Linked DNA regions of Homo sapiens: regions 1 and 3 are each linked to region 2. Evidence: fine-mapped expression QTL. A gene starts in region 2. Each other region holds a variant in brackets. All regions are shown on one strand. Distances are between the middles of the regions.

The links. PIP is the estimated chance that this variant, and not a neighbour inherited with it, causes the effect.
Region 1: its variant is fine-mapped to the expression of F2RL1 in whole blood (INTERVAL, PIP above 0.99).
Region 3: its variant is fine-mapped to the expression of F2RL1 in whole blood (TOPMed, PIP 0.91).

Annotation. Positions count from the first base shown.
Region 1 is chr5:76,837,759-76,840,514 of GRCh38, forward strand. No RefSeq gene overlaps it. Among named protein-coding and RNA genes, the nearest start is that of S100Z, 11 kb to the right of the region's middle. The variant C/T (reference allele first, on the strand shown) is at 1,570.
Region 2 is chr5:76,817,941-76,820,696 of GRCh38, forward strand. F2RL1 (F2R like trypsin receptor 1) reads left to right here and starts at 1,090. Exons shown (of 2, transcript NM_005242.6): 1 at 1,090-1,324. The coding sequence starts at 1,243. RefSeq lists enhancers at 806-1,423, 1,424-2,041 and a silencer at 824-1,118.
Region 3 is chr5:76,850,650-76,853,405 of GRCh38, forward strand. All of the region lies in intron 1 of S100Z (S100 calcium binding protein Z), which reads left to right. Among named protein-coding and RNA genes, the nearest start is that of S100Z, 2.0 kb to the left of the region's middle. The variant A/T (reference allele first, on the strand shown) is at 1,292.

The sequences.
Region 1 (2,756 bases), 20 kb after region 2:
CTACTAAAAATACAAAAAATTAGCTGGGCGTGGTGGCGGGCGCCTGTAGTTCCAGCTACTTGGGAGGCTGAGGCAGGAGAATGGCATGAACCTGGGAAGTGGAGCTTGCAGTGAGCCAAGATCGGGACACTGCACTCCAGCCTGTGCGATAGAGCAAGACTCTGTCTCAAAAAAAAAAAAAAAAACTAAACAAAAAAGTATAAAAGAAATGATTTGAGAAATTAAAATTATTTGCTAAAGCAAAAGCTTATTTTTTTTTTGAGATGGAGTCTCGCTCTGTCATCCAGGCTGGAAGTGCAGTGGTGTGATCTCAGCTCATCGCAACCTCTGCCTTCCAGGTTCAAGTGATTCTCCTGCCTCAGCCTCCTGAGTAGCTGGGATTACAGGCGCCCGCCACCATGCCTGGCTAATTTTTTGTATTTTTAGTAGAGACGGGGTTTCACCAGGTTGGCCAGGCTGGTCTCGATCTCCTAACCTCAGGTGATCCACCCACCTTGGCCTCCCAAAGTACTGGGATTACAGGTGAGAGCCACCGCGCCTGGCCCAGCAAAAGCTTTTCAAATCGTTTTGTTCTGCCTTTGAAAAGTGGCTTAGAAAACCCCCTGGTCTATCTGAATTAGGCTCCTGATTGGAAGCATGAGGAACTCTGGCCCTAGCGGAGTAGTACCTTGGATGTGGTTGTCTTTGCTCTTGTGTTATATGTCATACTGTGGTCTAATTTCTCTAAACTGAGTCCTAAAATGTCTGAAAATGTAAATACTTTGAACTCCACAGGCTTATGTACTAACAGTGAGGCCTCTTAATTTGAAAGTGAACGAAGATTTGCAGTCCTGATGCTCAGGACAAAGGCCAGTGCTAAACTGACTCGGCTGGAGTTGTTTTATGGGCTTTTTCCTAACGTGTCACCTCAGTGGTTTGCAGCAGGAGTTTCAAACCTGTAATTAATTTCCTGGTTATCAAGGTTTCATAAACTTTAGGGCTATAATCTCATCAGTATGCATAGTTTAGTGATTACAACTTTGTTCCTGAAACATTAACCCTTTGGAGGCCCCTGAGAGGACTATAATTTATTGCAGAATCAAAGGTAGTACTTGCTGTCCTCCGGATCTTGATTAAAATGATAAGTTTTTGCTTGGGTGTTTAGATGTCTTCTCAAAAAGAAGTTTCTGATGTGGCCAGTCCTTTCCTGACCCCCAGTTCTGAAGACAAAAACCAAGCCCTTAGTGATCAGGGATCTAGCCCTACATTTTATTCAAGCCTTGGAACTTCACTGAGATGATTGTCCCACTTAAATGTCAACAATTAGAGTGACTCAGACCAACCTTGGAATGCCTCTCTGGAGGGACAGTTTGAAATATTCCGTGATTTGAGTATGAACTGCTCTTGCCTCTACCAGTGGGTCAATCTATGGACTGTTTCCCAGCCTTTGTCTTTATTGGTGAGAAATTAAGCCTGACCAGAGTTACAGACAACCTCCGGTAAAAACCACAGCCCAAGCCTGCGGGCCCATCAAGAACCCAGCAGCAGTGTGAGTGGTTCAATCCTTCATCCTGTGAAAGGAAAATAAAT[C/T]CTGTGGCCCCAAAATCACTAAGCTAATGGGAAAAGTCAAGCTGGGAACCGCTTAGGGCAAACCTGCCTCTCCTATTCAAAGTTACCCCTCTGCTCACTGAGACAAATGCATATCTGGGCCGGGTGCGGTGGCTCATACCTGTAATCCCAGCATTTTGGCAGGCCGAGGTGGGCGGATCACGAGGTCAAGAGATCGAGACCATCCTGGTCAGGAGTTCGAGACCAGCCTGGCCAACAAGGTGAAACTCCGTCTCTACTAAAAATACAAAAAAAATTAGCCGGGCATGCTGCTGGGTGCCTGTAGTCCCAGCTACTTGGGAGGCTGAGGCAGGAACATCGCTTGAACCCAGGAGGCGGAAGTTGCAGTGAGCTGAGATTGCGCCACTGTACTCCAGCCTGGGTGACAGAGCAAGACTCCATCTCAAAAAAAAAAAAAAAAAAAAAAAAGCATATCTGATTGCCTCCTTTCTAGAGGCTAATCAGAAACTCGAAAGAATGCAACTGTTTGTCTCTCATCTACCTATGACCTGGAAGCCCCCTCCCCGCTTCAAGTTGTCCTGCCTTTCCAGACCGAACCAATGTTCATCTTACATACGTTGATTGATGTCTCATGTGTCTCTAAAATGTGTAAAACCAAACTGCTCTGAGCACTGTGAACCCTAAACATTTGAGACAGTTCTCAGTTAATTTAGAAAGTTTATTTTGCCAAGGTTGACGCATGCCTGTGACACTGCCTCAGGAAATTCTGACGACATGTGCCCAAGGTGATCAGGGCACAGCTTGGTTTTACACATTTTAGGGAGACATGAAACATCAATATATGTAAAATGTACATTGGTTTGGTCTGGAAAGGCGGGATAACTTGAAGCAAAGACCAGAAAAGCAGGGAAGGGACTTCCAGGTCACAGATAGGTGAGAGACAAACTCTCTTGCATTCTTTTGAGTTTCTTCCTTTCCAAAGAAGGCAATCAGATATGCATTTATCTCAGTGAGTGGAGGTTGACTTTGAATAGAACGGGAGGCAGGTTCGCCCTGTGCAGTTTCCAGTTTGACTTTTAACTTTTAGCGCAGTGATTTTGGGGGCCCAAGATATTTTCCTTTCACACCACCTTGGGCACATGTCGTCAGGACCTCCAGAGGCTGTGTCACGGGCATGTGTCCTCAACCTTAGCAAAATAAACTTTCTA
Region 2 (2,756 bases):
AGTTCGAGACTAGCCAGACCAACATGGTGAAACCCCGCCTCTACTAAAAATACAAAAATTAGCCAGATGTGGTGCACGCCTGTAACTCCAGCTACTCGGGAGGCTGCGGCCAGAGAATTGCTTGAACCCAGGAGACAAAGTTTGCAGTGAGCCGAGATCACGCCACTGCACTCCAGCCTGGGAGACAGAGCGAGACTCCGTCTCAAAAACAAAAAGTAAGACATTACCAATATGATGCCAACCCTCATGCACTCATCCCCAACCCCACACTTCTCTTCTCCCACCCCTTCTATCTGCTTTTGTATTTATTTAGCCTATGGGATCCCAATGCAGAGGAGCCCTGGTGGACGCATTTATAGTGCAGCGATGAATAGAAGACAGTGATAGTCTTATACTGGAGTTGAAATGTGATAAACATTTATACACTGTGTTTATAAGTCGTGTAACTCTGGCCAATTTATCTGGTCTTTCTAAGCTCACTTTCCTCGTCTGTAAAATGGGAAGAATAATCATACTTATTGCGCTGGTTGTTATGGGGATTAAGCAAGATAATTCTCTAAAGCTTTGGCACTTGGCGCTGAAAGTAGCCATTCCATGTCTTCTTTCCCGCCCCGCCTCTTGTGCTCCCCACCGCTTTCGTGATGTCCGCAGTTGCCCACCTGCCTCTACAATAAAAAACGCATCCCTCCTCCTGCAGGGTCCACCGCACCGGGAAGCCCTGTCTGTATCAGTTACCAACCACAATTGCAGTGAGTACGAATCGTGGCTTTCCCACAGTCAGGAAAGGCAAGGGAGACCGACGACCCGCTTCTCTAGGAGTAAGTAAAGATTAAAGGTAGTTCGCGGTATAGCCTAGGCAGGGATTAACCCGTGGTCCCAGCGCTCCTGCTATTTGCATTCCAAAGCAGACACCTCATGCGCTCAACCCCGCCCGCAGGCGGCTCCCGCAGTCTAAGGGACCTGGCGCGAGTCCGGGAAGCGGAGGGCGCAGCTGCGCAGGGAAGGGGGCCGGGGGCGGGACCAGGGCGCGCGTTCCGGTCCCGGGGCGTGGCCTCCCGCAGGTGAGTACGCTGCTCCTTCGGTTTCCCTGAAACCTAACCCGCCCTGGGGAGGCGCGCAGCAGAGGCTCCGATTCGGGGCAGGTGAGAGGCTGACTTTCTCTCGGTGCGTCCAGTGGAGCTCTGAGTTTCGAATCGGCGGCGGCGGATTCCCCGCGCGCCCGGCGTCGGGGCTTCCAGGAGGATGCGGAGCCCCAGCGCGGCGTGGCTGCTGGGGGCCGCCATCCTGCTAGCAGCCTCTCTCTCCTGCAGTGGCACCATCCAAGGTGAGAAACCTGGCCAAGGAGGGCTCTTATCTCTGAGGAGCTGGGGTCCTGGGCACGCTGGGCAGACGGTGGGATCCGGGCAGGTGTGCGAAGGCTGTTCTGCTGCCGGCACCCATCTCTACGAATCCCTTAGCCTCCCCTTGGTGGCTTTGATGTGAGGTCTCTGCGCCAAGGAGGCACCCAGGTGGGACATGCGGGAGCAGCTGAAGTCAGCGGAGCCGGGCAGAGGCAGAGATTTCCCCAAAGACCCCACTTCCCGTAGAGGCTGTCATGCTGGGCACCTCCAGGCCCCAGCGTGGGTTCGGGGAAAGGGAGGGAAGGAAGGAGTAGCTGTGTCTAAAGGGTACGCAGAGGACCTAGTCCCCTCCCCGGGCTTGGTTGCTTTGTAAACACTAAGTCATTAAGAGCTTTTTGCCAACTCCGGAGACTTCCTCCGCTGGCCCCGCGGGGCCGGTGGGGTTAGCGAGCTGATTGCGCAGGGCAGGGCGGAGTGGGTGGGAACCCGCGGCCCGGGAGCCTTCTAGGTTGTTTTTTGCGTCCCTCTCCAACTGCTGGAAGCCTTTCTTCGGGTTCTGGCCCCTGCGTTCGAGACCCACCCGGGTCCCGCTGCTCCTGGCACCCACAGTGGAAGGCCCGGGGTATGAAAGTCAGGGCCGGTCCCTGATGGGTTCTGGTGGTAATGAGCGCTCAGGCCCGTTGGGCGCCACGAGGATTTACGAGCGGAACTTTTTGGACCCTGCCTTATATTTGACCAGTTGACCCTCTGGGCCTGGGGTTCCGGGACTTTCCTAGTGTGCCACCCGGAGCGGCCACTGGCTGCCACCCAGGTCTGCAGGCCAGAGGCTGGCTGGCCTGGGAACAGAGCAGCACTTGCGCCCGGCCGTCGCGTTCCTTGGATGTGCTGCTCCGGGTGTGCTCGAACTTGTATTGCTGGGAGTGTGTTCTTCCGGGCCCAGCAGGCCTCGCTGTGGCCGTGGGGGATGTTTGACCTGCGATCGCGCCACTGTGATCCTAACCGAGGCCCCTCTGTTTGGGGCAGCCTGGGTAGCAAAGGGAGCTTTTAATTTCCCTCAGAAATGCGCATTTCTCACTTTTATCCTCCTCTTCATAAAGACGAAGTAAAAGAGCAAGTCACAGTGGGTTGGAATTAGATGGAAGAATGTGATTCTTTTCCCTCTGCAGTTAGGGAAAAGGGTGTTAATGGTGTAAGCTTGAAAACTGTGCACCGCTGGTATATTTTTTTTTCTTAATCAGCATCAGAATAAAGGCATTTAGTTCCAGGAAGTATTGAAAACTGTAATGGACACCTCTCCTCTATGTCCTTTAAAGTTGGAAACTTAAAATTCAGGAGCAAAGGTTAGTATGTGCAAACTTTAAAAAAATACATGTTGGTATAGCTGATTCAACATCTTTATGATTCAGAGATCCCTGT
Region 3 (2,756 bases), 33 kb after region 2:
CTATGCTCCTCCTCTTCACACTGGCCAGTGCTGGGCATGCCTGGACAATCAGCCCTGGAATGGCTGCTCTCAGCCTACAGAAGAAGAGAGGGAAGAGGGATGGAGGGGCTGGGGAGAAGTTGGTGAGAGGACACAAAATTTGGGTTAGACAGAGAAATAAAGTTTTTTTTGTTTTTTGTTTTTTTCTGAGATGGAGTTTCACTCTGTCACCCAGGCTGGAGTGCAGTGGTGTGATCTCAGCTCACTGCAACCTCCACCTCCCACTTGGCTTCCCAAAGTGCTGCGATTACAGGCATGAGCCACCGCTCCCCAGCCTCCTCATGGGATTTTTGAGGATGACATAAAGGAATACATTTAAACTGCCTAGAAGGGTGCTTGGCCCAGAGTATGTGCTAATTAACGTTGGCTACTATTATTTTCCTTCAACCCAGTGCCGGTGCAGGTCTAGAGGAAAGCATGAGGTGATACAGGGGCACCCAGAGGCGGAGTGCTCCCAGGAGCTGAGGGGCATCGGAGGCTTCCCTGGAGGACTGGCACCTGAGCAGAGGAATGGGCAGCACAGTGGCAGTGCCACGTGTGCGGCACAGATGGTGCAGAGGGGATGGGTGGGCACACTGCGGGGAGTTTAGATTTAGCCAGGGGATGGCAGGGCCTGTCCAGGAGGTTAAGTGAGGAGCTCAGGTGTGCCTCCCAGCAGGCAGGGGAGGCTAATTTTGAAGAAGAGCAAAGTAGGTGCAGGAGGTGAGTTGGGATCTCATGCAGTAATTCAGGCCAGAAGTGACAAGGGCCTGAACTATGGCGCTAGGGTTGAGGAGGAAGGAACAGAGAGTGAGGAGATACAACCTGGCAACTGATTGCATGAGAGAGAGAGAGGGGCCAGGAATAGCATCATACTCAGGTTTCTGGCCATGCAGTTGGGTGAATGAGGGTATTGCTGTTGACTGGAGCAGCAAAAAAAGGGGATCCCCTCTGGGGTAGAGGAAGAAGGGAGCAGGGGATTGGAAAATGCCAAAATCAGTTTGCTGTGGTTTGGAATCTGAGACTCTGATGTGTTACCTAAGTGGAGATGTCCTGTGGTCAGTTTATTTATACTCTCCTGGGTCCTAGGTAGGATTTAAGGTGACATATGAAGATAACACAAAGTAGAGTAAGATATTATAAATTAAGTAGGAGAGAAAGCAGACAGAAAAGAACGAGATGTAAAGTAGAGGAAGGAATGAGGTTAAATATAAAGTACACAGCAGAAAGCAGAAGTCACAAGCTGGCCAGCATTCGCTGAATTTCCTGTTTG[A/T]GTTGTCCTGCAGTCTTATGTTTGTCTGTTGGGTTTTGGTGGGTTTTGTTTGTTTGTCTTGAGTTGCAGTCTTAAAATCCAGGAATTCTTAAAAATTAAAATTTCTCACTTTTTCTTTTAAAAAAAAAAAAAGTGAAGTTCTGGGAGCTCTGAGCCATATCCCATCTGGCAACGATGATCTGGGTCTGAGAAGCAGTCTCGCCTTCTTGGGAGAGCACGGGCTCTCCAATTTCCCACTGGCCTCCACTCCACTTGGCTGTCTGGCACTGAAGCAGTGTCGGTCCTCTTATCAGCATGGACTATTTCTCTGAACTCACCCTTCTATCAAATGTAATAAAAAAAATTAGTCAAGATATTTTTTTTTTCTTAGTCTCAATTTTGCCTGTTTACACTAGCAGCCTGGCCGTGGAAGCAGGCTGATGCTCCCTGTTCACAACTGCTTTTCATTCTGCTTAGTGCCTCTGTTGTATCTGTTGTTAAATAGTTTGGGCTGGGTGTAATGGCTCACACCTGTAACCCCAGTACTTTGGGAAGCTGAGGTGGGTGGATTGCTTGAGGCCAAAGTTTGAGAATAGCCTGGCCAACATGGTGAAAACCCATCTCTACTAAAATACAAAAAAATAGCCAGGAATGGTGGTGCACACCTGTAATCCCAGCTACTCAGGAGGCTAAGGCACAAGAATTGCTTAAACCCAGGAGGCGGAGGTTGCAGTGAGCTGAGATCCCGCTACTGCACTGCACTCCAGCCTGGGTGACAGAGTGAGACTCTGTCTCAAAAAACAAACAAACAAACAAAAAACAGCAAAGTTTGAACATGACCCGGCTGTAGGTATTTGAGTTTGCAGCATGTGGTAAAATCAAGTATTCGGCCTAGGTGGCTCATGAACTTGATTCTAGGCTTTCTAGCAGCCAAAGAAAAAGAGGATACATTATCTGTCTTATCCTATCTTATCAGCTGGGCTATTCATAGTATCCATGGGATGACTGCTTAGGCAAGTCAGGACTCTTCTCAACACAAGAACCAGAGCAACATTTTTCCCCTGAGAGTCTTCATAGAGAGGGAATGAAAAGTTCAAACAACATTCATCCCAGAGTCGATTCAAGTCTAAGGCTGATGATTCTAGCAGCTTCAAGCAGCATTTCCCTTGAAGCACAGCTGCTTAAACAATTCTAGGAGGGGCCAATGTGATACAGTTCAGACACCTAATTTTCTACTGATCTGGCTATATTAATTTCAGAAACTTTAGAAAAATCTAGAGAAATGCCTGGACTCCCTCCAAATAATCCTCCATAGATGGTCTGAGGATGTGATGCCTGGAATTGCAGCAGTCATCTTGTGACTGTGCGGGGACAAGTCAGAGATGAGAGCTGGCACACAGAAGATAGGGAAGAAGAAAGATAGATCTTGGGCCCTTGATAGCATTGACAAAACACTGAAACAACCAACTTTTATAGTAAGAGATAG